Homo sapiens: one gene and its partners. The protein of the gene in region 3 purifies or fractionates together with the protein of the main gene of each other region. This does not show direct contact. Each region holds a gene or a part of one and is shown on either strand. Other genes may lie near its edges.

What was found.
Region 1: the proteins of FOXN3 (region 3) and HRNR purify together in Homo sapiens (affinity purification with mass spectrometry; one large-scale study listed by BioGRID and IntAct). This does not show direct contact.
Region 2: the proteins of FOXN3 (region 3) and ING2 purify together in Homo sapiens (co-immunoprecipitation; one large-scale study listed by IntAct). This does not show direct contact.
Region 4: the proteins of FOXN3 (region 3) and CHSY1 purify together in Homo sapiens (affinity purification with mass spectrometry; one large-scale study listed by BioGRID and IntAct). This does not show direct contact.
Region 5: the proteins of FOXN3 (region 3) and SAP130 purify together in Homo sapiens (co-immunoprecipitation; one large-scale study listed by IntAct). This does not show direct contact.
Region 6: the proteins of FOXN3 (region 3) and FOXO3B purify together in Homo sapiens (affinity purification with mass spectrometry, with the first as the bait; one large-scale study listed by BioGRID). This does not show direct contact.
Region 7: the proteins of FOXN3 (region 3) and BPIFB1 purify together in Homo sapiens (affinity purification with mass spectrometry; one large-scale study listed by BioGRID and IntAct). This does not show direct contact.

The regions. Positions count from the first base shown.
Region 1 is NC_000001.11:152,217,694-152,221,193, forward strand, and holds part of HRNR (hornerin), read right to left. Parts: coding exon 1-3,500. UniProt on the Homo sapiens protein: Component of the epidermal cornified cell envelopes.
Region 2 is NC_000004.12:183,508,058-183,510,493, forward strand, and holds part of ING2 (inhibitor of growth protein 2), read left to right. Parts: intron 1-2,224; coding exon 2,225-2,436. UniProt on the Homo sapiens protein: Seems to be involved in p53/TP53 activation and p53/TP53-dependent apoptotic pathways, probably by enhancing acetylation of p53/TP53. Component of a mSin3A-like corepressor complex, which is probably involved in deacetylation of nucleosomal histones.
Region 3 is NC_000014.9:89,165,734-89,169,233, forward strand, and holds part of FOXN3 (forkhead box protein N3), read right to left. Parts: intron 1-3,500.
Region 4 is NC_000015.10:101,245,549-101,249,048, forward strand, and holds part of CHSY1 (chondroitin sulfate synthase 1), read right to left. Parts: intron 1-3,500. UniProt on the Homo sapiens protein: Has both beta-1,3-glucuronic acid and beta-1,4-N-acetylgalactosamine transferase activity. Transfers glucuronic acid (GlcUA) from UDP-GlcUA and N-acetylgalactosamine (GalNAc) from UDP-GalNAc to the non-reducing end of the elongating chondroitin polymer.
Region 5 is NC_000002.12:128,018,060-128,021,559, forward strand, and holds part of SAP130 (histone deacetylase complex subunit SAP130), read right to left. Parts: intron 1-3,500. UniProt on the Homo sapiens protein: Acts as a transcriptional repressor. May function in the assembly and/or enzymatic activity of the mSin3A corepressor complex or in mediating interactions between the complex and other regulatory complexes.
Region 6 is NC_000017.11:18,679,515-18,683,579, forward strand, and holds the start of FOXO3B (forkhead box protein O3B), read right to left. Parts: upstream 2,801-4,065; 5' UTR 2,690-2,800; intron 2,420-2,689; exon of another isoform or gene 2,333-2,419; 5' UTR 2,138-2,332; coding exon 2,101-2,137; intron 1,316-2,100; coding exon 1,227-1,315; intron 1-1,226. UniProt on the Homo sapiens protein: Transcription factor.
Region 7 is NC_000020.11:33,282,009-33,286,013, reverse strand, and holds the start of BPIFB1 (BPI fold-containing family B member 1 precursor), read right to left. Parts: upstream 2,801-4,005; 5' UTR 2,760-2,800; intron 1-2,759. UniProt on the Homo sapiens protein: May play a role in innate immunity in mouth, nose and lungs. Binds bacterial lipopolysaccharide (LPS) and modulates the cellular responses to LPS.

The DNA of each region.
Region 1 (3,500 bases), on a different chromosome or scaffold from region 3:
TGTCCTTGGCTACAGAAGTGCCCTGAGCCACTACCATGCTGACTGTAAGCAGAGGAATGTCCTGAGCCAGACTCATGTTGACCAAAGACAGAAGAGTGACCCGAGCGAGACTCATATGGGCCACGGCTGGAAGAACGACCTGAGCCAGACCCATGTTGGCCGTGGCTGGAGGAGTGCCCCAAACCGGACCCATGTCGGCCGCGGCTAGGGGAATGGCCAGATCCAGACCCTTGTCGGCCGTGGCCCGAAGACTGACGGGAGCCAGACCCATGCTGACCATAGTGGGAAGACGAACCTGAGCTAGATCCGTGTCGTTCACCCCTAGATGACTGTCCTGATCTAGAGCCGTGTTGTCCGTAGCCAGAGGAGTGACCTGAGCCAGACCCATGCTGACTGTAACTAGAGGACTGCCCTGAGCTAGACTCGTGGTGACCAAAGCCAGAAGACTCGCCTAAGCCAGACCCATGTTGGCCACTGCTGGAAGACCGACCGGAGCCAGACCCATGTCGGCCGTAGCTGGGAGACTGCCTTGACCCAGACCCACGCTGGCCGTGGCCTGGAGACTGGCCAGATCCAGAGCCCTGTCGGCCATAGCCAGAAGACTGACTTGAGCCAGAGCCATGCTGACCGTGGCTGGAAGACTGACCTGAGCTAGCTCCATGTTGGCCACAGCTCGATGACTGTCCTGATGTAGAACCGTGTTGCCCATGGGTAGAGGAATGACCTGAGCTAGATCCATGTTGACCGTAGCCAGAGGACTGTCCTGAGCGAGACTCTCGGTGACCTAAGCCAGAAGAGTGACCGGAGCCAGACTCATATGGGCCACGGCTTGAAGACCACCCTGAGCCAGACCTATATGGGCCATAGCTGGAAGACTGCCCGGAACCAGACCCATGTCGGCCACGGCTAGGGCTAGGAGACTGGCCAGATCCAGACCCATGTTGGCCGTGGCCCAAAGACTGACGGGAGCCAGACCCATGCTGACCATAGCTGGAAGACGAACCTGAGCTAGATCCATGTTGTTCGCTCCTAGATGACTGTCCTGACCTAGAGCCGTGTTGTTCGTAGCTGGAGGAGTGACCTGAGCCAGATCCATGCTGAGTGTAACCAGAGGACTGCCCTGAGCTAGACTTGTGACCAAAGCCAGAAGACTGGCCTGAGCCAGACCCATGTCGGCCACTGCTGGAAGACCGACCGGAGCCAGACCCATGTCGGCCATAGCTGGGAGACTGCCCTGACCCAGACCCACGCTGGCCGTGGCCTGGAGACTGGCCAGATCCAGAGCCATGTCGGCCGCGGCCCGAAGCGTGATGGGAGGCAGACTCATGCTGACCATAGCTGGAAGATTGACCTGAGCTAGAGTCATGTTGGCCGGAGCTTGATGACTGCCCTGACGTAGATCCATGTCGTCCCTGGCTAGAGAAGTGACCTGAGGCAGAACCATGCTGACTATAGCCCTGTCCTGAGCCAGACTCGTGTTGCCCAAAACCAGAAGCCTGGCCTGAGCCAGACTCATAATGGCCACAGCTGGAAGAACAACTTGTGCCAGACCCGTGTTGGCCGTGGCTGGAGGAGTGCCCTGAACTGGACCCATGTCGGACACGGCTAGGAGAGTGGCCAGATCCAGACCCTTGTCGGCCGTGGCCCGAAGATTGATGGGAGCCCGACCCATGCTGACCATAGCTGGAAGACAAACCTGAGCTAGATCCGTGTTGTTCACTCCTAGATGACTGTCCTGACCTAGAGCCGTGTTTTCTGTAGCCGGAGGAGTGACTTGAGCCAGATCCATGCTGACTGTAACCAGAGGACTGCCCTGAGCCAGACTTGTGACCAAAGCCGGAAGACTGGCCTGAGACAGACCCATGTGGGCCATTGCTTGAAGACCAACCGGAGCCAGACCCATGTTGGCCGTAGCTGGAAGAGTGCCCAAAATCGGACCCATGTCGGCCGCGACTAGGAGACTGGCCAGATCCAGAGCCCTGTTGGCCATAGCGAGAAGACTGACTTGAGCCAGAGCCATGCTGACCGTGGCTGGAAGACTGACCTGAGGTAGCTCCATGTTGGCCACAGCTCGATGACTGTCCTGATGTAGAACCATGTTGCCCATGGGTAGAGGAATGACCCGAGCTAGATCCGTGTTGACCGTAGCCAGAGGACTGTCCTGAGCGAGACTCTTGGTGACCTAAGCCAGAAGAGTGACCGGAGCCAGACTCATATGGGCCACGGCTTGAAGACCTCCCTGAGCCATACCCATGTGGGCCATAGCTGGAAGACTGCCTGGAACCAGACTCATGTCGGCCACGGCTAGGGCTAGGAGACTGGCCAGATCCAGACCCATGTCGGCTGTGTCCCAAAGATTGACGGGAGCCAGACCCATGCTGACCATAGCTGGAAGATGAACCTGCACTAGATCCTTGTCGTTCACCCCTAGATGACTGTCCTGACCTAGAGCCGTGTTGTCCGTGGCCGGAGGAGTGACCTGAGCCAGATCCATGCTGAGTGTAACCAGAGGAATGCTCTGAGCTAGACTCGTGGTGACCAAAGCCAGAAGAGTAGCCTGAACCAGACACATATGGGCCACTGCTGGAAGATCGACCAAAGCCAGTCCCATGTTGGCCGGAGCTGGGAGACTGCCCTGACCCAGACCCACGCTGGCCGTGGCCTGGAGACTGGCCAGATCCAGAGCTGTGTTGGCCGCGGCCTGAAGAGTGACGGGAGGCAGACTCATGCTGACCATAGCTGGAAGACTGACGTGAGCTGGAGCCATGTTGGCCAGAGCTTGATGCCTGCCCTGACGTAGATCCATGTTGTCCCTGGCTAGAGGAGTGACCTGAGCCAGAACCATGCTTACTATAGCCAGAGGACTGTCCTGAGCCAGACTCATGTTGCCCAAAGCCAGAAGTCTGGCCTGAGCCAGACTCATAATGGCCACGGCTGTAAGAGTAACTTGAGCCAGACCCGTGTTGGCCGTGGCTGGAGGAGTGCCCCGAACCGGACCCATGTCGGACGTGGCTAGGAGACTGGCGAGATCCAGACCCTTGTCGGCCGTGGCCCAAAGACTGACGGGAACCAGACCCATGCTGACCATAGCTGGAAGACGAACCTGAGCTAGATCTGTGTCGTTCACCCCTAGATGACTGTCCTGACCTAGAGCCGTGTTGTCCGTAGCCAGAGGAGTGACCTGAGCCAGATCCATGCTGACTGTAACCAGAGGACTGCCCTGAGCTAGACTTGTGTTGACTAAAGCCAGAAGACTGGCCTGAGCCAGACCCATGTGTGTCATTGCTGGAAGACTGTCCGGAGCCAGAGCCGTGTTGGCCATAGTTGGGAGACTGCCCTGACCCAGACCCACATTGGCCGCGGCCTGAAGACTGATGGGAGTCGGAGTTTTGCTCACCATAGCTGGAAGACTGACCTGAGTAGGAGTTATGTTGGCCAGAAAAGTCTCTTTGAAAACTCAGTCTTCTGGATATGGATTCAGTCCCAGGTTTAAGACTTCC
Region 2 (2,436 bases), on a different chromosome or scaffold from region 3:
AGACATACAGATCTGGCACAGTTCAAAGTCTGGGGTTCTTATCTCTTGAGTTGCAGTTTTTTTCACAAGCAGAAGTGATGGCTTCCTCATGGGGTTGCTGTGGAGATTAACTGAGAAAATCTTTACCACATAGAAGGGGCTGAGTAAATGTTAATTTCTTGTCTTCTTTCACTATATAATACGGTATCTTACAAATTTTTTATCTCATCTATCAATGTGCTGGTATGATATATACTGTACTTAGCCTCTAACACCTGATTATTAGGTACAAAATATTTGAAAAGAGGTTTGCCTCTTTTTTTTTTAATCCTCAATTTTTTATGTGTCTGAGGGAACCAGTTTCCTTATTTTTCCTGTAGGGAAATGAGGTTCTTAAGAAATCTGCTTAGATGCCGAGCTAAGCAAATGGAATAGACATGAACTTTGTTCGAAAATATGCTATGCAGGTGTAAGTACTCTGAACTGTGTGGTGGCACTTTGTTATATATTCCAAGTTAGACAGTTGTACATCAAGTACGAGTACCTGCGATTTCCAGGGAGAAGCTGATTAATGAGTTCTGTTGAATATTTGCTTTTGTGTGCCTTACTTGCAGACAGCCCCAATGTATATATCTACTTGCCTAACATTTCTGTTTTTAATAATTATAATATTGGAATATAAAACTAGTATGCCATGTGGTATGAAAAATACCATGCGGACAGAACTCTTTGAGATAGCATTACATCTTGTAAGAATAAGAAATAAAACGGATTCGAGCAAAACTAATCTTAAGTAAATTTTTGGTGACATCTGAAATTATATTTTCAGATTTTTGGATACCTTCTAGTGACTCAGCTATTTTTACTTGATTTAAGTAAGTGTATTCCACGTGCCATACAACTAAATCAGCAGTTCAGAAAGCTCAGAACCAACTACTGATTTATCTACAAAGGCAGAATGATCGAGTGCTGACTTTATTGTAATTTTGTTAGTGGTTTGGTCAGTTGATGCCAGAACCAGAACCTACTCTGGAAATAGTTTCATTTTCAGAATTTCCCATGTGAGGCTAAAGTAGAGCCATTAAAAGTAAGATGATGGGAAGCTAAGAGTTGCTTATGCCTTCTTTGTTAAGAATGTATGATGTGAAAGTGAAGCTATATCTCCGGAGTCATGTCACAAGTCATTGTCACAAGTCATTGATTGGACTGTAAATCCTGTAAACACAGTTGGGCAGTAATCTGTAGCCTAGTCCTGTAACCTTTTCAAGTTTTAGAGCTGGACCCCAGCCTGCACATTTTATATATAGGGTTGTTTTGAAGGTGTTACAGTACTTAGTAGACTAAAGTGGCATTCAGTGTTCCTGCCCATGAGAAATACTTTTGATCATTAATTAGCCAAACATCTCTTATCCTTTTTTTTTTTTTTTGAGACGGAGTCTTGCTCTGTCTCCCAGGCTGGAGTGCAGTGGCGCGATCTCGGCTCACTGCAAGCTCCGCCTCCAGGGTTCTCGCCATTCTCCTGCCTCAGCCTCCTGAGTAGCTGGGACTACAGGCGCCCGCCACTGCGCCCGGCTAATTTTTTTTGTATTTTTAGTAGAGACGGGGTTTCACCGTGGTCTCGATCTCCTGACCTCGTGATCCACCCGCCTCGGCCTCCCAAAGTGCTGGGATTACAAGCGTGAGCCACCGCGCCTGGCCTTTTTTTTTTTTTTTTTGAGATGGAGTTTTGCTCTGTCGCCCAGACCGGAGTGCAGCGGTGCGATCTCGGCTCACGGCAACCTCCGCCTTCCGGGTTCAAGCAGTTCTCTGCCTCAGCCTCCCAAGTAGCTGAAATGATGAGGGGCGCCTGCCACCATGCCCGGCTAATTTTTGCATTTTTAGTAGAGACAGGGTTTCACTATCTTGGCCAGGTTGGTCTTGAACTCCTGACCTCAGGTGATCCACCTGCCTCGGCTTCCCAAAGTGCTGGGATTACAGGCGTGAGCCACCGCGCCCAGCCTCTTTTTAATATAGATTAATGAGTATTAGTTTTGTGTTCTTTCTTTTCATTACTTTATTTCTAACTATACTTTCATATTAGATAATGTGGTCTTTGTATGAAATAGTTTTTAATGTATATGTACCAAAGAGGAGTATGGTTTCATGGTTTGAGTTCTAATTTCAATTCTGTAAAAAATAACTACCTTGGAAATGTTGTGTCTGCTAACACATGATAACGTTCTCATTTTTCTTTTCCTTTTTTTAGAAACGTTAAAGGAAATTGATGATGTCTACGAAAAATATAAGAAAGAAGATGATTTAAACCAGAAGAAACGTCTACAGCAGCTTCTCCAGAGAGCACTAATTAATAGTCAAGAATTGGGAGATGAAAAAATACAGATTGTTACACAAATGCTCGAATTGGTGGAAAATCGGGCAAGACAAATGGAGTTACACTCACAGTGTTTCCAAGATCCT
Region 3 (3,500 bases):
CGAAAATGAAAGTCTCGTTGTATGGTCCTTTTAATTTTTGCCATTTGAGGGAACTACTGTAAAATACAAAAATAATTCACCCACTGAACTAACATCAAACAGTTTCATAGTAAATCTAAGTATACTTGAAAGAGTAAAGTGGGCTATATTTAGCTTTTAATAAATGGATTCAGTTCTGAATGTTTCTTTTAAAAAATAACTTGGGGCTTACAACTCACGTCACTACCACAGTTAAGCAGAACATGATCCCTCTCTGAACACAGATGGGGAGAATCACGAGTGGGAGAGTGAGAAATAAAGCAAGTGCTCCACAGTGCTGATTCCTGGTGAATCTAGGTGAAGGGTCTGTGCTATTCATTGTGCTTTTCTTTCCCTTTTTTCCTAAGTTTGAACATTTTTTAAATCAAAGTTTTAGGGAGGGGGAGAAATACTCTAGAACCAAAGCAATGATGTTAAACGTGAGCTCCACACTATCATAAGAGGAATGGTTTCGAGCCTGAGAATGTCTCTTTCTTTCTTAAACAGGGAGATTAGCAGCATTAAAGAGGGGGATCCAAATGGAAACTTTCTTCTTAAAGAGATCCCATGGATTAAAGGGAGAATAGAAAAGAGAATGATTCCACAGCCCCTGATTTGATGCTGTGTGGGGCAGAGTTTCCGGTACCACCTAGAATCAGACTGCATGCCAACAGAGTCCATGACCCAAGTCCCTATTGGAACACTGGCCTACTTAACCCATTTCACAGAAAAACAGAAGCTCAGAGAGCCCCATGGTTGTTGAGTGGGGTGGCCCGGACAGTCTCAAAGATGGTTCAAGCAGGAATTCAAAATATCTCCCTGTCACTCCTGAAGAAGGAAGTTTACTGTGATGAAGACAGAAAACCAATACATCCACTGATAATATTTCTGGATGAAAACAGGTACACAGACATAACTTCAGGGAGTGAGAATTAAAATATAAATGTCTCTCTTTCTCATTTGATGAAATTAACCTTCCCTGAGATTTTAGCTTGGGATTATGTAATCCATAAGTTACACACAAAACTCAGCAGGAAGTGAAAAGCTCCTTCAATTATTAATAACTTGGTGCAATGTTATTCACGATGGTGCAAGCCAGCTGCACTGACTTGGTGTCAAATGTTTCCCGCCGCAGGGATTGCCATTACAGGACAACAAATGCTTAAAAGAAACCAGCCATTCTGAACATGTTGGAAGGTGAATTTCTAACCACTTTCTTAAAAATCATTCATTAAAGTGAACATGTGATACATCCGAAATGCCTGCAATTTTTCAGTTTTAGCTGAATTTATGTGTAACGATATTGCAATTAGCATAAATCAGAGCCACCTGATTTTACTGGGCCTCTAAAAGTTTAAAGCATGTGGCTCAACAAAACCACGTGCTATTCATCTCAGATAAAACCTGGTACTCATTCTCTTGTCAAATAGTTGGAAAATATCAAACATAAAAAGAGAAATCACATTAGTTCAAACCCAGAATGAGCAGGCTTTCAGCTAACAAGTCAAGGTGTAGGTTTACGACATGGCCATCTGCCATTTTTTGTTTGTTTGTTCATTTGTTTAACCAATTAATTAGGGGTTCCACTACAGTATAATGAGCATGTGTCATCTCTGCCTCTTACCTGGTGCACTAGGAGTCTCTCTGGAACTAATGGCTCTAATTCTAAAGGATATCATGTAGGGTAGTTGTCCTCCCCAGGGATTTAGTTGAGGACTCTGATCTTTTGCCAAATGTGAAAAGTAGATGGGATTAATGGGATTGTAGAAGCAGGGGACTGGAGCAAGTTCAAAGCTTCTTTTGAAAATCAACTGCAAGTAGACATGGAAGAGAAGAGATGACCAAAGACTTCCACCTCCAGCCAAGTGGTAGAAAGACATTTGGAAGGTTCTCTTCTGACTATAATATAAAAGATCCTAGATCAAGTACAGTAACTTGTTTTAAAGGCATTGCTGAGTTCACTAGAAAATAAGGGATATTCAGAGACCCATAGAGACATACACACAAATAAAACATTTTAAAGTAACCTGCAGTGTGAGCAATCAGGCAACTAGGCAACGAAGAAAGCCAAAGTTTCTCTATAGCGAACGTCTGCCCTCGCAGTAGAACAAGAACCCAAACTCACTCAGTGGGAGGCAGGAAGGGAGCAGCAGGAAGGTTGATGCTGGCTGCTTCCTGCTTACTGTGTACCCTCTAAGGGCGTTCAAGTGGCTCCAGGTATACTGGTCCCCCAGGCTCCCCACCGAAGTTTTAAAAGCAAATCCTCTCTGAAAGAACATACTTTAAACCCAAGCCACAAGGAATTTCCACAGATAAGATTTCAAGAACATGGGTTCATAATAAAAAAACAAAAATTAAAAACATTAAACACAATGGGAATAAGCCACCATAAGCAAAGAGACAAGAGAACAGAGAAATGATAGAATCTGAACGGCAAAGACTATAAATGTTGAAATAATTCGTTACAGAATGTAAAGTTAGTATGTTTAAATAAAGGAGGGAATTGAAAAATACTAGAAAGGAAGATCAGGCTATATTGGAAAGCACTAAACAGAACTTCTAGAGATAAAACATATAATCCTGGAAATTAAAAACATCAATGCAAAGTGTGGTGGCTCACACCTGTAATCTCAGCTACTCAAGAGGCTGAAGAGGAAGCGCTTGAGCCCAGGGGATCAAGACTAGCCTGGGCAACATAGCAAGACCCTGCCTCAAAAATAAATTAATTAATCTACACTGAAGGTCTCCTAAAAAACTCAATGTAGCTGAAGAGAAAAATTAGTGAATTGTTAGATGGACCTGAAGATACTACATAAAATGCAGCAGAAAGACACAGAGATAGAGAATATGGAAGAAAGGTTGGATGAGACGGAACACAGAAAGAAGAACCAACGGAAACCTAACTGGAGTTCCAGTGAAAAGAAAGAATGGAGAAGATTCAATACTTGAATAGAAAATGGCTAGAATTTTCTAGTTTTGATGACGGTACCAATCTTCAGATTCAGAAAGCCAACACGTCCCATGCGGGATAAAAAAAATAAAGTCCATACGGAGACACATCACAGTCAAACTTTAGAGCAGACACAAAAAAGACAAAAAGATTTTTAAAGTAGTAGAAAGAAAACGTATCGCCTAAAGTACTAATTAAGATAAAACAAGTGAAGCAGAAGAAAGTGGAACAATATTCTCAAGAGAGAAAATAACTGTCGATCTAGAATTTTATATTCAGTAACACTAACTTCTAAGGGTAAGGGCAAAATATAACTTTTCAGGCAAAAATTCAGGACTTTAACTACAAATAAACCCTTACTGTAGGAATTTCATAAGAATATATTTTAGGAAAGAGAAAAATGATCCAAAATGGAAGATCTGAGATGTAAGCAGAAATGATCAGTACAGAAAATGTAGGCTGGGTGCTGTAGCTCATATTTGTAATCTCAGCACTTTGGGAGGCTGAGGGAAGTGAATCTCTTGAGCCCAGG
Region 4 (3,500 bases), on a different chromosome or scaffold from region 3:
GGAATCTACTGTTAATAAAGAGCAGCTTAGTTAACAGACAGGGGAACGTGAAGCTGCCGGTGCAATGGAAACAGTCACGCACAATCCGCTATTGACAGCCACATCTATCCCTGGAATCAATCCGCTATTGACAGCCACAGCCATCCCTGGAAATCCCTGGAATATTGTTTGAGCGCTTCAAGATCTTGAACCTGACATAAAAAACTACACTCATTTTCAGAGCCACATGGTTCCCTAGTCTCCTACAGGAAATTCACGATCTGAAATGACTTGGTGCTCCAAAAGTTCACTTACAGGTTGATTATTTGGATTTTACATGGAAAAGCCTTCTGTATAAATGTTTGCCAAGTTGAATTCTATCTAAGAAAGTGAGGACTGCTCTGAACTGTTTCAAGATAAACATGGTTTACTTAGCTCAAGAAATAAGGAAATGAATTCAGATTTATAAGATAGGAGGATCTCATTAAGGTTGGTAGAGGAACAGTCCGTCTTCATTTAAGGCATTAGGAAGAGATCATTCACTGATAATAGTATCCTGAAATCAGATTCCTATATCTCTAGGTAATGCTTCTCAAACTTTCTTCCCACAGTCCCCTACAGACTGATGCTAATCTGTAATGGTGCCCTTGTTCAATCTTGGCGCAAAGAAGGGAAACCATCCACCTCTTTCTTCTGACAACATAAAAAAAGAACAAAACTATTCCCCATCTTCAGCCCAGAGAGGGTAAGAACCAAAACAAACAAAAGGTGTTGGATTAGCTCAAGGTTCTGGGCATAAAAATGGACGAATAAGCAAAATACGTGTGGCTTTTTTTTTTTTTTAATCAAAACGTTGATTAAAAAAATCTAAATAGCACAGAAACTCTCTCAGCAAGAAAAGGTAAGTGTAGCCAAGAAATGTTTGAAGCAGATGAATAACAAAGGGGAACTTGTCCACCGGATATTAAAATATTATTCAACCTCCAATAATTTCAATGGGTGGTACTGGCACAAGAACAGACAGAAAGTTCAACGGAACAAAACATGAAGTCCAGAAACATACCCAAGAATTCTGAGCATGACGAAGATGGCATTTCAAACTGGTAGGGAAATGAGAACTTAGTCAACGGTACATGGTGCTGCGACCACATACTATTTGGGGAAAAAATAAAGTTGAGATGATTTCTACCCTTTCTAGAATTAGGAAGGAAACGTTACCTTTAAAAATCTCTCCAGGGCAGTAACTGTGAACCTGGGGTAGAGAAAACTAAAATCAGAAAGGGAAAGACATAGACTGAACTACATGAACATTTCCCTTCCATATATCACAGAACATAACTAAAAAGAAAATGTTTAAATATGGGAAAAATACGAATTGCAGCTAGTAATGCAAGACACAAGAAACCCAGAGGTTCTGACAAGCTGTCCTTAATTTGCATAATAAATGACTTCAGAGGAATCACAGTACCATTTTAAAGCGAAATTACCTAGAACACACACTTGCAGATGAGTCAAAATAAATTATTTTATGTGTTAACTTACAGAACCCCAGCTACCCACCTCCTTTTCCTGCATAAACCCTCCAGTGGCTTTCTAATTCACTCAGAATGAAACTTTACAAGACTGGACACTAGCGAGCCCCTTCTTGGGGCTCTTCTTTTACTGGCCTTCTTGGCTTTCTTTCTTTTACTGGCCTTCTTGGTGTTCCTTTCCAAGCCGGTCCCTGCCTTGGGACTTCCCGGTGCTTCCTTGGCCCTCATGCTCATCAATGATATTCACACAACTGGCTCTTCATGATCAAATCTCAGCCCAAATGGCACTCTCTCCAAACTCTTCCCTAATCACCTAACACAGAGAGGACACACTTGCCCTGCCCCAACCCTGTTCTATTTTCTCTACAGCATCCATCACTAGCAGAAACCCTCTTTTTAGTGTCGTCCCTCTGACTAAAGAACATGACAGCAAGCCGTGTACTGCAGTGTCCCCCAGGACTCAGGGTCGGGGGCCAGAGGGGCCATGCATGCATGTGCTTTACAAAGAAATGGATCCTAAGTAACGAATCAGGATCACTCCTATTAACTCCACAGCTACTGTGTCACTCAGGGCCTCCAAAGCTCAGCCCTGGCTGGTCTCTCACCTGCTACATTTTGAGTTTTGTCTCGCCTGCTTTGAAAAATCTGTTTCTTGTCTGCTATCAGCTGTCACTGCCCTGCTATATCTTGGTGGCCCCCATCCATCCCTCAAGCAGATGGCAGGTCTAGAAAGTAAAAATGTGTAATGATGGAGATGTTCTATCATCAAAGTGCTGTGCCTTTAGTGTGGACGGGCATATCTCCTTGGATTTTCAAAAGCTTTTTTAGCCCCTTTCTGGATCTCAGAGTTGTTGGAATGAAGAGGTTGCTAGCTACTAGTCCCTTCACCTAAATTCTGACATTTTCAGTATTCTACACCAAAGTATCATCTTACTGAAAGTGCTGGCATCTCCTTCATCTATAAGCCAAACAACAGTTGTTTTTTTGTTTTTTTTAAAAAACAAAACTACAGTTTTCGATAAGATGAAGAATGAATTTACCTTTCAGGAGAAATGTAAAGCTCAGCACATCGATTTCCAAACTAGAGTTCTACCTTGTGCTAGAAGAGTCAAGCTTACTTTTATACTGAACTGTGCATGGAATTTCCAATTTAAGAGCTCAGTGTGGACTTTTGGTCTGGGCTGCAAAGCACAGTAAAACTGGAATCATATGTTATACCCTATAACCTCCATCCCAATTGAGGCCCTCCCCAAAAGTTCCTTAACTTTTAGCCTTAAGGCTAAAATCGTCTTGTGCCAACTCCTGCAGTCAGTCTAAACACAGGGTTGGCAGGCAAGAGGCAAAGGACCCTAACTGGCAGGGCAGGTCCACCTCCAGGCTCCATGCACTCTGACTTCTTAAGATCTGAGAGATAAAAGGAAACTTCTGTGAGAGAGCTGGAGTGACATTAGCTGGACACTATCTCCTGGTAGGCGTTTTCCTTTCTCAGAAAGGCAGAGGTGTCAAAAGAAAGGGAGAACCCCGCCTGGGGGCAAACTGTGTTTCTGCTTTCCCCTAACCACCTGAAAAAAAAATAATAAATAAACAATGAGATTAAGTCTTACATCCAGAAAAAGATGAGGGAAGAGATGTGGAAAGGAGGCCAAAAGTAAGAGCGTTAAGCTCGAGTTTGGAAAACCATCTCCAAGTGTGAAACAGTAGTTCTAGTTTGCATTACATTTTCTTTTACTTATTTTCTTTTTTTTGAGACGGAGTCTTGCTCTGCCCCCCAGGATGGAGCGCAGTGACGCAATCTCGGGTCACAGCAACCTCTGCCTCCTGGGTTTACGCCATTCTCCTGCCTCAGCCTCCCGAGTAGCTGGGACTACAGGCACCTGCCACCAAGCCTGGCTAATTTTTTTTTTTTTTTTTTTTTTTGCATTTTCAGTAGAGATGGGGTTTCACCGTGTTAGCCAGGATGGTCTTGATCTCCTGACCTCATGATCCGCC
Region 5 (3,500 bases), on a different chromosome or scaffold from region 3:
GGGCACTGGATTCTCCTGATGGACATCAGACAAAAGAGCCACAACTGTGGAATATAGAATTTATTCTGGATATTGTAGCCTTATGAACAAACTACCTGAAAATCATCTAAAATGAGCTGAAATAGTTAAAAGTACAATACAGGATGTAAGACAATTTCATTTAAAACATCCTCTTAGAAAGTTATAAAAGCCTGACATTAAAAAGATATTTTATGCTGGCCAACATGGCAAAACCCTATCTCTACTAAAAATACAAAAAAAAAAAAAAAAAACAAACCAAAAACCAAAAACCACGTTTTTTTGTAATCCCAGCTACTTGGGAGGCTAAGGTGGGAGGATCACCTGAGCCCAAAAGGCAGAGGTTGCAGTGAGCCAAGATTCCGTCACTGCACTCTAGCCTGGGCGAGAGAGGAAGATTGTCTCCAAAAAAAAAAAAAAAAAAAAAAAGGATGGCTGGTGCAGTGGCTTGCACCTGCAATCCTAGCATTTTGAGAGGCCAAGGCAAACAGATCCCTTGAACCCAGGAGTTCAAGACCAGCCTTGGCAACACAGTAAGACTCCATCTCTGCAAAAAATTTTAAAATTAAATGGGCATGGTGGCATGCACCCGTAATCCCAGCTATATTGGAGGCAGAGGGAGGAGGATCACTTAACCCTGGGAGGTCAAGGCTGCAGTGAGCCAAGCCATGATTGTGCCACTGCACTCCAGCTTGGATGACACAGTGAGACTTTGTCTCAAAAAAAAAAAAAAAAGGTGGTTGGGGGCTGAGCACAGCCTGTAATCCTAGCACTTTGGGAAACCAAGGCAGGTGGATCATTTGAAGTCAGGAGTTCCAGGCCAGCCTGACCAACGTGGTGAAACCCCGTCTCTACTAAAAATACAAAAAAATTAGCCGGGCGTGGTGGTACACACCTATAATCTCAGCTACTAGGGAAGATGAGGCAGGAGAATCACTTGAACCCAGGAGATGGGAGGCTGCAGTGAGCTGAGATTGCGCCACTGCACTCCTACCTGGGTAACAAGAGTGAGGCTCCATCTCAAAAAAAAGAAAAAAAAAAGATATTTTAAGTACGGTTCCTAACTTTAAGAACATATAATTTTTCAAAACTGAGGGACAGAGATAGGAGAGATATTTTCCAATGTATGCTCTTTTTCTTTTGGTGTTTTGGTCTACCAGAAGACAATCTATTTAAAAATTTTTTTTAATTAAAAAAAATTTTTTTTTTGAGACAAGGTCTCACTCTGTCTCCCAGGCTGTAACGAAGTCACAGGATATCAGCTCACTGCAGCTTCAAACTCTTGGACTCAAGTGAGCCTCTGCCTCCGCTGCCCAAGCAGCTAAGACTACAGGCACATGCCACCACACCTGGCTAATTCTTTTATTTTTTTATGAAGAAAGAGTTCCACTATGTTGCCTGGTCTGGTCTTGAATACCTGGGATCGAGTGTTCCTCCCACCTCTGGCCTCCCAAAGTGCTGAGATTACAGGTGTGAGCCACTGCACCTGGCCTATTTAAAAATTAAGTATTTAAAAATTCAGTGGAGGCCGGGCGTGGTGGTTCACGCCTGTAATCCCAGCACTTTGGGAGGCCAAGGTGGGGAGATCACTTGAGGTCAGGAGTTCGAGATCAGCCTGTCCAACATGGTGAAACCCTGTCTCTACTAAAAATACAAAAAAATAGCCAGGTGTGATGGTGCACACCTGTAATCCCAGATACTCAGGAGGCTGAGGCCAGAGAATTGCTTGAGCCCGGGAGGTGGAGGTTGGGAGATCCTGCCACTGCACTCCAGCCTGGGGGACAAGAGCAAAACTCTGTGTCAAAAAAAAAAAATTAAGTGGAAAAAAATCAGAGAACAATACTGATGTAATAAAGGAAGAGCTTGTGAAAATATTAACTCATATTTGTCTATAATTTTTCCAAAATAATTTTTTTTCTGAGCATAAAGATAATATTTACTTATGTAGAGAATTTAAATTATTTGGAGTACCATAAACAAAGTAATGTTGCCCCCAAACTTACCCCACAAAGGCACCAACACTTAAAGTTTTGGTGACAGTTCTCGCTTCTTTTAAATTTTGGGTTTTTATTCATTTGACTTTTTTTTCTTGAAGTATGATTTTCATAAAGATAAGTGCACAAATGTTAGCTGTGCAGCTCAATGGACTTTCACAAACTGAATAAACCTGAGTAAATAGCACCCAGCTCAAGATAGAAAACATTATTGGTCCCCCAGAGACCCTTAGTTTGGCCCTATTCTAGCCACTATCCTCCGAAGGAAATCAATCTTCTACCTTGTAACACTATAGATTAGTATTGTCTGTTTTTTAACTTTACGTAAACAGACTTATAACAAATACACCCTATTGTGCTTTGCCTCTTTCACTTACAGGTATGAGATTCATTCACATTAGTGTACACAGCTGTAGATCTTTCATTCTCAATGCTGTATATAGTACGACACACGAGTAACGTACAAATTATCCATTTTACTCTTAAGAGGCACTTTAGTTTTCAGTTTGTTCCTATTTTGAATAGTGCTAGTAATGTTCTTGTACGTGTCTTTTGGTGAACATATGTACCACTTCTACTCAATATATACCTAGGATTAGAACTACTGGGTAGAGAATACTGCATCATTTTTTAAAGGTGAAATGGGGCCGGGCACAGTGGCTCATGTCTATAATCCCAGCACTTTGGGAGGCTGAGGCAGGTGGATCACCTGAGGTCAGGAGTTCAAGACCATCATCCAACATGGTGAAACCCCGTCTCCACAAAAATACAAAAATTAGCTGGGCATGATGGCGGTTGCCTGTAATCCCACCTACTCGGGAGGCTGAGGCGGAAGAATCACTTGAACCCAGGAGGCAGAGGTTGCAGCGAGCCAAGACTGTGCACTCCAGCCTGGGCAACGAAGCAAGACTCTGTCTCAAAAAAAAAGTGAAATGGGATTCTATTGTATAGATGTACTATAGCTTTTAAAATCACTGTATCATTGATGGGCTTTTAGGTTATTTCCAAATTTTTGCTTTTATCAACAATCTTGTCCAATGATCTCTTCAGGAAAAAATTCCTAAAAGTACAAGTGCTGGATGAAAAGAGTGATGTGGCCGGGCGTGGTGGCTCAAGCCTGTAATCCCAGCACTTTGGGAGGCCAAGGCGGGCGGATCACAAAGTCAGGAGTTTGAGACCAGCCTGGACAATATGGTGAAACCCTGTCTCTACTAAAAATACAAAAATTAGCTGGGCATGGTGGCGGGCGCCTATAGTCCCAGCTACTTGGGAGGCCGAGGCAGCAGAATTGCTTGAACCCGGGAGGTGGAGGTTGCAGTGAGTCGAGATCGCGCCACTGCACTACAGCCTGGGCGACAGAACAAGACTCCATCTCAAAAAAAAAAAAAAACAAAAAAACAGAGAGGAAAGAAAAGACTGATATACGTTTTCTTTTTCACTATATATTGACTTTTCTCCCAGGTCATTCAGAATTTTTAAAATTTTGAT
Region 6 (4,065 bases), on a different chromosome or scaffold from region 3:
TGGGCTCACTGCAACCTCTGCCTCCTGGGTTCAAGTGATTCTCATGCCTCAGTCTACGGAGTGGCTGGGATTACAAGTGCGCGCCACCACGCCCAGCTAATTTTTGTATTTTAAGTAAAGACGAGGTTTCACCATGTTGGTCAGGCTGGTCTTGAACTCCTGACCTCAGGTGATCTGCCCGCCTTAGCCTCTCAAAGTGCTGGGATTACAGGCATGAGCCACCGTGCCCAGCCCTAACTTCTTTTAATAAAAGTTTCAAACATACAAAAGTTGAAAGATGAATGCAATAATCACTGATATAGTACAATCACCGCCTAAATTCAAAAATTCTTTTTTTTTTTTTTGAGACAGAGTTTCCCTCATTGCCCAGGCCGGAATGCAGTGGTGCGATCTCGGCTTACTGCAACCTCCACCTCCTAGGTTCAAGTGATTCTCCTGCCTCAGCCTCCAGACTAGCTGGGACTACAGGTGCGTGCCACCATGCCTGGCTAATTTTTTGTGTTTTTAGTAGAGACGAGGTTTCACCGTGTTAGCCAGGATGGTCTCAATCTCCTGACCTAGTCATCTACCTGCCTTGGCCTCCCAAAGTGCTGGAATTACGGGCATGAGCCACCACGCCCAGCCAAACATTCGTAATATTTGTCATATTTACCTTTTGGGAGAGAGGGGCCAACAATATAAAAGTAAGTTGCAGGCATGATCATACCTTAGCTTTCGTCATCTCAGAGGGCTGGATTCTAACTGTAACTCTTTAAATTACGCCTTCATAGGCTTTCCTTTTCCAGTGTTTCTTTGAACTATGTGAGTATTTATTATTTTTACAATCACTTCAGCATTTAAGTGCTTTCTTAGATTGCCACTTAAAGTCACATACATGCTGTTTCCTCTAGAGAAACAAGTTTTAAGAGGTATGTGCCACATTATATTTAAAATAGTTTCTCACATTACCAAGCACAGAAATGAGCATAGGAGGCTAAGAAAGGGAAATGCTGCTTACCTATCTGTTGAGGGACAATAAACACTAAATAGGGAAGAAATCCATCCAGTGTTATAAGTAGAAAACATTTTCTTCTGAGTCCATTAGTCTCCTGACTAGTCTCTTAGATTTAGAACTCAGCTCTGCAGATGGGCTTTAGTGGATAAAGAAACTCCACATCACAAAGAAGGGAGTGCATCTGTACTCTAAGAAACAAGGTGTAATTCCAATAATCAGCAGACTCACTCACCTGGGATCTGGCCGTGAGGCGCAGAGCAGCCACTTCTCCCTCTTCTGTGCTCTTCTCTTGGAAATGGGGAGAATCCTGGGAAGACAGAACTAACGACAAGAAAGCAGTAATGATGAGACCTAGGCTTAATGTGCCACTCAGATTTAAAGTCTAAAAACCGCTTCAACATACTATATGTGCTGCCTACAAACACTGAGACTGAAGGTACCCCCAAAACAACCGACCTCCTCCCAGGACCCTCTTCCCGGGATATGCGGGAATATTGCTACTCTGGGCTCGAATTCAGTTGCTATAATCATAACACATTCTGTAAGATGGCATCCTCTGATCTAGAAATTAGAATATGTCAGTAAATTTCCCAGCTTAATCTATACTCGTTGGTTCTCACTCTGAAAGCTTATTTATAATGTAGATTGCTGGACCCCACCTCAAAGTAATAAGCATTAGTTGAGCCTGGGGTACAATCCAGAAATCTAACAACCACCCCAGGGGGAATTCTGGTGTAGGAGGTCACAGCACAACCTTCACGAAACTGGTCAGGTAGAATGGAAGTCAGTCATTAACTACTACGCCTGTTTTCTCCTATGTAAAACAAAACATTTTTGACAACCAAAGAGGTGAATTCTTGCCATAGAAGTTAACATTTCACTCACATTTTGGGGGTAGCTTTGAAGGGTCCACTGTGTGCCCAGCTGCCATGGAAAGGGCGGTGCTCCCATACCAAGCTCTTCAGTCTCACTTAAAAAGCCCATCCATCCCCAAGACAATGGAGACAGCCAGCCAAGAGCCACCTCCCCTGAGCCAACCGTTTTCCCTTCAGGAGCAGGAATTTCGTCCTTCCACGCTACAAGTTCAACACGTCCGCAATTCTCACCTCCTTTCTCAGGCATTTCAGCCAAATCTGTCTCCATGATCACCACCTCCTCCTTGTTCTGGAGATTCTGCTCTTCACCCCAATTCAGATCTCCCTGGCCAGACGAGTTAGAAGCCCCCCGGGCCTCGTGGTCCCACTTCCTGCCTTCCCTCCTGGGCTCTGATGAAAGGCCTGGGTTAGATCGGGTCTCTTTCTCACCGTGGAGTCTGCCTCAGTCCTACGGCGCTGGAGCCTGGAAGCCCGGGGACAGCATCCCTGAGGCTGGGTCCTCAGATGTCTGTCCCTACCGCTTGAAGCTGTCCCTGGGGGAACCGGGCGCCTGGAAGAGGTGACGCTGGGGCATCAGGAGTTTGGACAAATTCTGCCGCGCTCGGGGCACTGGCCCAGGACCCCGCGACCACCCCGCCCGTGGCACAACCGCGTCCCCCGAGGAGAGGATCAGGCCAGAGTGAGAAGGGACAGGGCTCATGGTCTGCCCTCGAGGCCCCTTTAACAAACGCGCACTCTAGCCCCGACTCGGCACAGAACGACCCGGGGAACTACCGCCGAGGCCGAGCCGAGACGAGAGACATCACCACAAGCAACTCACCTCCCATCCCGGGCCTCACAAAGGGGACGAACTTCTTTGGCCAGCTCGGAGTCGCGCATGAGTAAGAAGGAGCGGAGCCAGGCGTGCTGCTCTCATTCCGCCCGGAACTACAATTCCCAGAAGCGCCTTGGCATCGCCAGACTCCGGTTCTCCGCAGGTGGGAGCACCCATGGTGAGGTTGGGAGAATCGGCCGATCGAAGAGCTCCGTCCGTCTCGCGAGAGTATGAGGCAGCATCTCCTGTGTCTAATCCTCAGGGCAAGGGAGGGAGGGAGCAGCGGAGACGCGGACCGGAGTCAGGGTCCGTCCCCGCGCTTTGTCTGCACAAGTTCCTGTGGCACAGTGCTTAGGGCTGCTGAGTTCAACCCAAATTACTCCGGTGTAAGATACGTTAAAATACATAGCTTTTATCCATATTTTGTGCGCCCAGAACTCATCCTTTTGCTTTCAAAACATACGAAGGATGTTTTTAGGAAGAGCAGGTCCCTCTTTGTACACTCAGTCAGATGTTCCTGTATCCACAGACTACTTGTAATCCTAAAATTCATGTATTTAAAACGAGTTGAAAAGATTGAACCTGTTGTAACAAATTTAAGCAATAGGTTCTTTGCAGACATAAGCATTAGTTTAAACGTAGCATAAAAGGTGGTTCTTTCAAGGGAGGGTTATTCAGTCTCTCCAATTCTGTTAGAGGACTAACCCATCCACCTCCAGCTTCGTGTCTAGACTGCCCTCCTTTTCTCAGTGAATGACATTACTGCCCACTCACTCATTTGCACAAACCAGAGCCTGAATATTCTTAACTCTTTGATCTCACCATCTATTTATCACCAAGTCCTATTCATTATATCTTAAATAACTCAATTGTTTCCATCTTTCTCTATTCCCAGTAGCATTACCTTAGTTGGGGCCACCACCATTTCACTAGGATTGCCGTTGCAGCCTGGTAACTGGATTCCCTAACTAAGGTTTTCTCTACCACCAATCTGTTCTCGACACTTTCTGGCTAGTGCTCTTTCTAAAACAAGAATATGCTATTACTTTAGTGCTTCAAACCGTTCAGTGGCTTTTAGAAACTTCAAGGAAAGATGATTTCCAGCTCCCAGAAGGGATTTGTAACTCCCGTTATCTCAGCCACCTGGTAGTTACACCTTTGTGCAATCCCCTCTTGTGTATGGACTGGGACTTGCTTCTAACCAATACAGTGCAATAAAGGTGACATAAAAGTCTAACGTGTGTCTTGCTAGGAGACTCCTCTCTTGCTGGCTTTGATGAAGTGGTGGTGATGTTGGGGAGGCCCATATGACAAGGAACTGAGGATGGCCTCCAGCCAATAGCCTGCAAGAACCGAAGGCCCTTGGTCCCACAACCTGCAAG
Region 7 (4,005 bases), on a different chromosome or scaffold from region 3:
ACCTGAGGCAGAGGGGCCAAGGGCAGGCCCATGATGCCCGGTGACCTGGGGCACGGTGTCCAGGAGAGGCTGTTGAGTGCAGTGTTTAACTGCCTGGGCTAGCTGTGTAGCCTTAGGCAATCAACGTAACCTCTTTGTGCCTCAGTTTTCTTATCAGACAAATGGGGATAATGACCCCAGCTTCCCAGAGTTGAGGGATTAAGTGAGTTAATATCTGGAAAGCATTTAGCACGGTGTCTTTCACATGGTAAGCACTTGGAATGTATTAGCTATTTTCTTTCTTTTTTTTTTTTTTTGAGACAGAGTCTCGCTCTGTCACCCAGGCTGGAGTGCAGTGGTGCCATCTCGGCTCACTGCAAGCTCCACCTCCTGAGTTCACACCATTCTCCTGCCTCAGCCTCCTGAGTAGTTGGGACTACAGACACCCACCACCGCGCCAGGCTAATTTTTTTTTTTGTATTTTTAGTAGAGACGGGGTTTCACCGTGTTAGCCAGGATGGTCTCGATCTCCTGACCTCGTGATCTGCCCACCTCGGCCTCCCAAAGTGCTGGGATTACAGGCGTGAGCCACCGCGCCCAGCCTGTATTAGCTATTTTCTTACAGAAAATCCAGCAACAATGCTCAGAACAAAGAACTTCTGCTTCCCGTGTCTCCCACCCCTCAGTCTGACACTTAAAACCCTCTATGGTTCACCGTCTGCTGACCTCACCTCCTGCTTTCTCTCCCCTTGTTCTAGCAAGTTCCAAGCAGTTGGAAGGTCTCAGAACATACTGTGTTCTCTCCTGTGTCCGTGCCTTTGCTCTTGCTCTTCCTTGCTTCCTGGAATGCTTTTCTCCTCCCATATCTCCCTGATGAACTCCTATTCATCCTTTAAAACCCTGCCAAGATTTGTCACTTTCCCTATAAAGCTTCCCCTGTCCTGCAGACAGGGAACCTGGACCACACTTGGAGAAATGTTGTCCTGGGGCCCAAGACATGAAGGTTGGAGGCAGGAAGGAAATGAGGAGCCAGGTAGGACTCAAAGTTGTGAAAAAGCTCTTTGCTTAATCTGCAATACTAAGGGGGCTGGGGAGGGACTGAATGGCTTCTTGGAGCCAGGAAAAGAAGGGCAGAGAGAGAGAGAGAGAAAGAGAGAGAGAGAAAGGGCCCTGTGGCTCATGCCAGGGAGAGGAGCTTGGGGGTATTCTGGCCCCTTGGCTGCTCTGTCCCCTCCCTCCACAGGGGTGTGGCATCAACATCTGTAGTCCAGTCCTGAGCTCTCCAGCTTGCACCCTGGCTCTGTCTGCCAGCCCCCCATGGAAGCTCCTGCCCCTGTGGACTGTCCTGCTTGGAGGGAGGGGAGACGCTGCAGAGATCTGAGCCCCTCGCTTGGTTCAGCATGTGGATTTCTTTTTGCCAAAGACAAATGTGGCATCCGGATGACATGTGTCTCCTGTGCCCTGGAGCAGTGTGAGCTCTTCTGAGACCCTTGCAATAATGATTCAGCCTCTGCTTCCCTGACCAAGCTGTGAGCTCTGGGAGGGAGGGCTGGGTCTGCCTGCTCCCTGCTGTGTCCCTGGCATCCAGTATAGTGGTTGGCATAGACCAGGTGCTTAATAAATGGCTGCTGAATAATTGCATAGCCTCTGGAAGCCCCGAAAGAATTGGAAATCTGAGCCTGCTAAGCTGAAAAGGTTAGTGTTAGGAGGCCTGAAGGTGGAGGGGAAAATATTATTGGCTTGGCAGCCAGATGAACCCTAGTTGGAGGCCTGCCTCTACCACTTGCTCTGTGATCTTTGACAAGTGACTTACCCTTTCTGAGCCTCCATTTACTCATCTATAAAATGGGGAATAATTATAGTACTTATGTCATAGGCTTTTTGGGAAGATTAAATGAGACAATCTATTTGTGGCCTGGCATGGCCAAGCGTTCAGTAGATGGTAGCTTCCACGATAATTATGACAGGTATTATTACTAATATTGGAGTCAGAAGGAGACACCTTGCAGCCAAAGCCAGAAGACAGAGCTGAACCCCGGCATCCAGGCACCCCTGTGGCCCCACTCCATATTTTCCTTGCAAATACCTTGACTCTGTCTGTCCTGCATTATCTGTACACACTGCTCAGTCCTCTTTGGATCAGAGAAACCCAGGGACCCACGAGGATGGTAGCATCCCTGTTTCCCTCCTGTGGAAAAGACTCTCCTCCCCCAGATCCAGGCACCACACACGCCCCTGTCATATGGCACCTCCTCTCCCAGCCTTTGCTTCTGCTAGTTCCCCTTCGTGGAATATCTTTCTCTCCTCCTTTGCCCAATCGCCTTCTACTCGGCTTTGCAACCAACACATCACCTCTTCCAGGATCCCTTCTTTGACTGTCCTCCACTCCCATGTCCCTGGGTCTTCCTTGGGCACCACATTGTCCTGCACTGGGAGTTCTTTGAGGGACAGAGTCTGCGTCTCATGCTTCTTTTGTCCCAGCACCACCGCAGCACAGCTGGGACAGAGCAACTGGTATGTGCAGAGTGGGTTTATGTCACTAGGAAGAGGTCAGGAAAACACTCAGCCAGCCCCATCCCTTCGTCACTGCCCTTTGGTCCTCTGGGCGAGGGAGCTGGGCATCTCTCTACACCTGGCCCTGACCCTCAGCGGATCCTGACTCACCGAGGGCCCTTCCCTGAGGGCGAGCCTCCCCTGTGCTCCTGACCTGACCCCAACAGGTATCTCTAGCTCAGAACCTTCCTGGCAACCTTGGCTTTCAGCCCCTTCCCTACTTTTACCTGGGCACGCTGGAGTCCTCGGCCCGCTCCTCTCCTCTCCCGGGCAGTGGGTCTGGAAGTCCAACCTTATATCCTGCACACCCCAGCACAGGCTTTGTCTTTAGGCAGAGGCCTCAGACCAGGCCGAGGTCTCCAAGGTAAATATTTGTGGCTTCTGCTGAACCACAGCCCCGCCCGGAGGCAGCCTTGGGACTCCAGCTTCCTGAGGTTTGGAGAAAGGAAGGTCCAGGCTGAGAGAAGCACAGTGCATATAGCAGAATAAGCACTCCATAAATGTGAGTGGCCGTTGCCATTAATATTATTATTGCTTATAATAGGATGAGCCTTTGTAGAGGGATTACAACAATTGTTTAATCCAGATAATCAATTTGGGAAAAGGAAGGAGTAGCCTTACCCACCCCTTATTCCTAAATACATCAAAGATACACATCTCCATCAATTAATTCACCCAGGAGAATAGATTTGAATCCTATTTTTGCCACTGCTTTGCTGTGTGCCCTTGGGCAAGGTACTTCACCTCTCTGGGCCCCAATGACCTCATCTATAGCATGGGGATAATAGTAGCTCCTCCTCATAGGTTGTTAAGAGCATGAGTTGAAGTGCATGCCTACACAGTGCTTAGCATGGGCTTTCATTTCATTCATTCATTCATTCCGCAGCAATTAAAATCTGCTCTACCTTGTCTGCATCTTTAGGAATCTCCATGAGCACTTGTGGACCAAAAGAATAAGGAGGGATGACCATGAACCTAAAGGACAAATGTCAGAGCCCAGCAGGACGCTGTCATCCACCACCTGGGCCCAGGTCTTGGCTCACGCAGCCTGCACAGTCACCCAGAGGTGGGCATCAGCAGCGTTAATGTTACAGAGGGCACCTGAGGCTCAGAGAGGCGAGTGACTTGCTCAAGGTCACATGACCAGGGATTCCAGCTTTGGGACCTGAACCCGATCATCAGTCCAGACCGGACCCTCTTAACCGCCACACTGTCCTTCCCCTGAGACTTCAATTTAGCACTGGAGGTGGTGGTGACACCAACATGGCCTTTTGATGTCATCTGGGGAATTATCCTTGCTACCCAGTTTTTGTCTAGAAGAATGGAATTGTGGTTTAGAGCTGGGATGGCCATTGTTGAATCCTGTCTCCATCTGCAGCAGACAAGTCAGGGGCAGTAAGTGTTCTGAGGTCACAAAGTACGTGGCCAGGCCCTGGCTGGTCTCTTCCTCCTGCTTTTTGACAAGAAGAACAA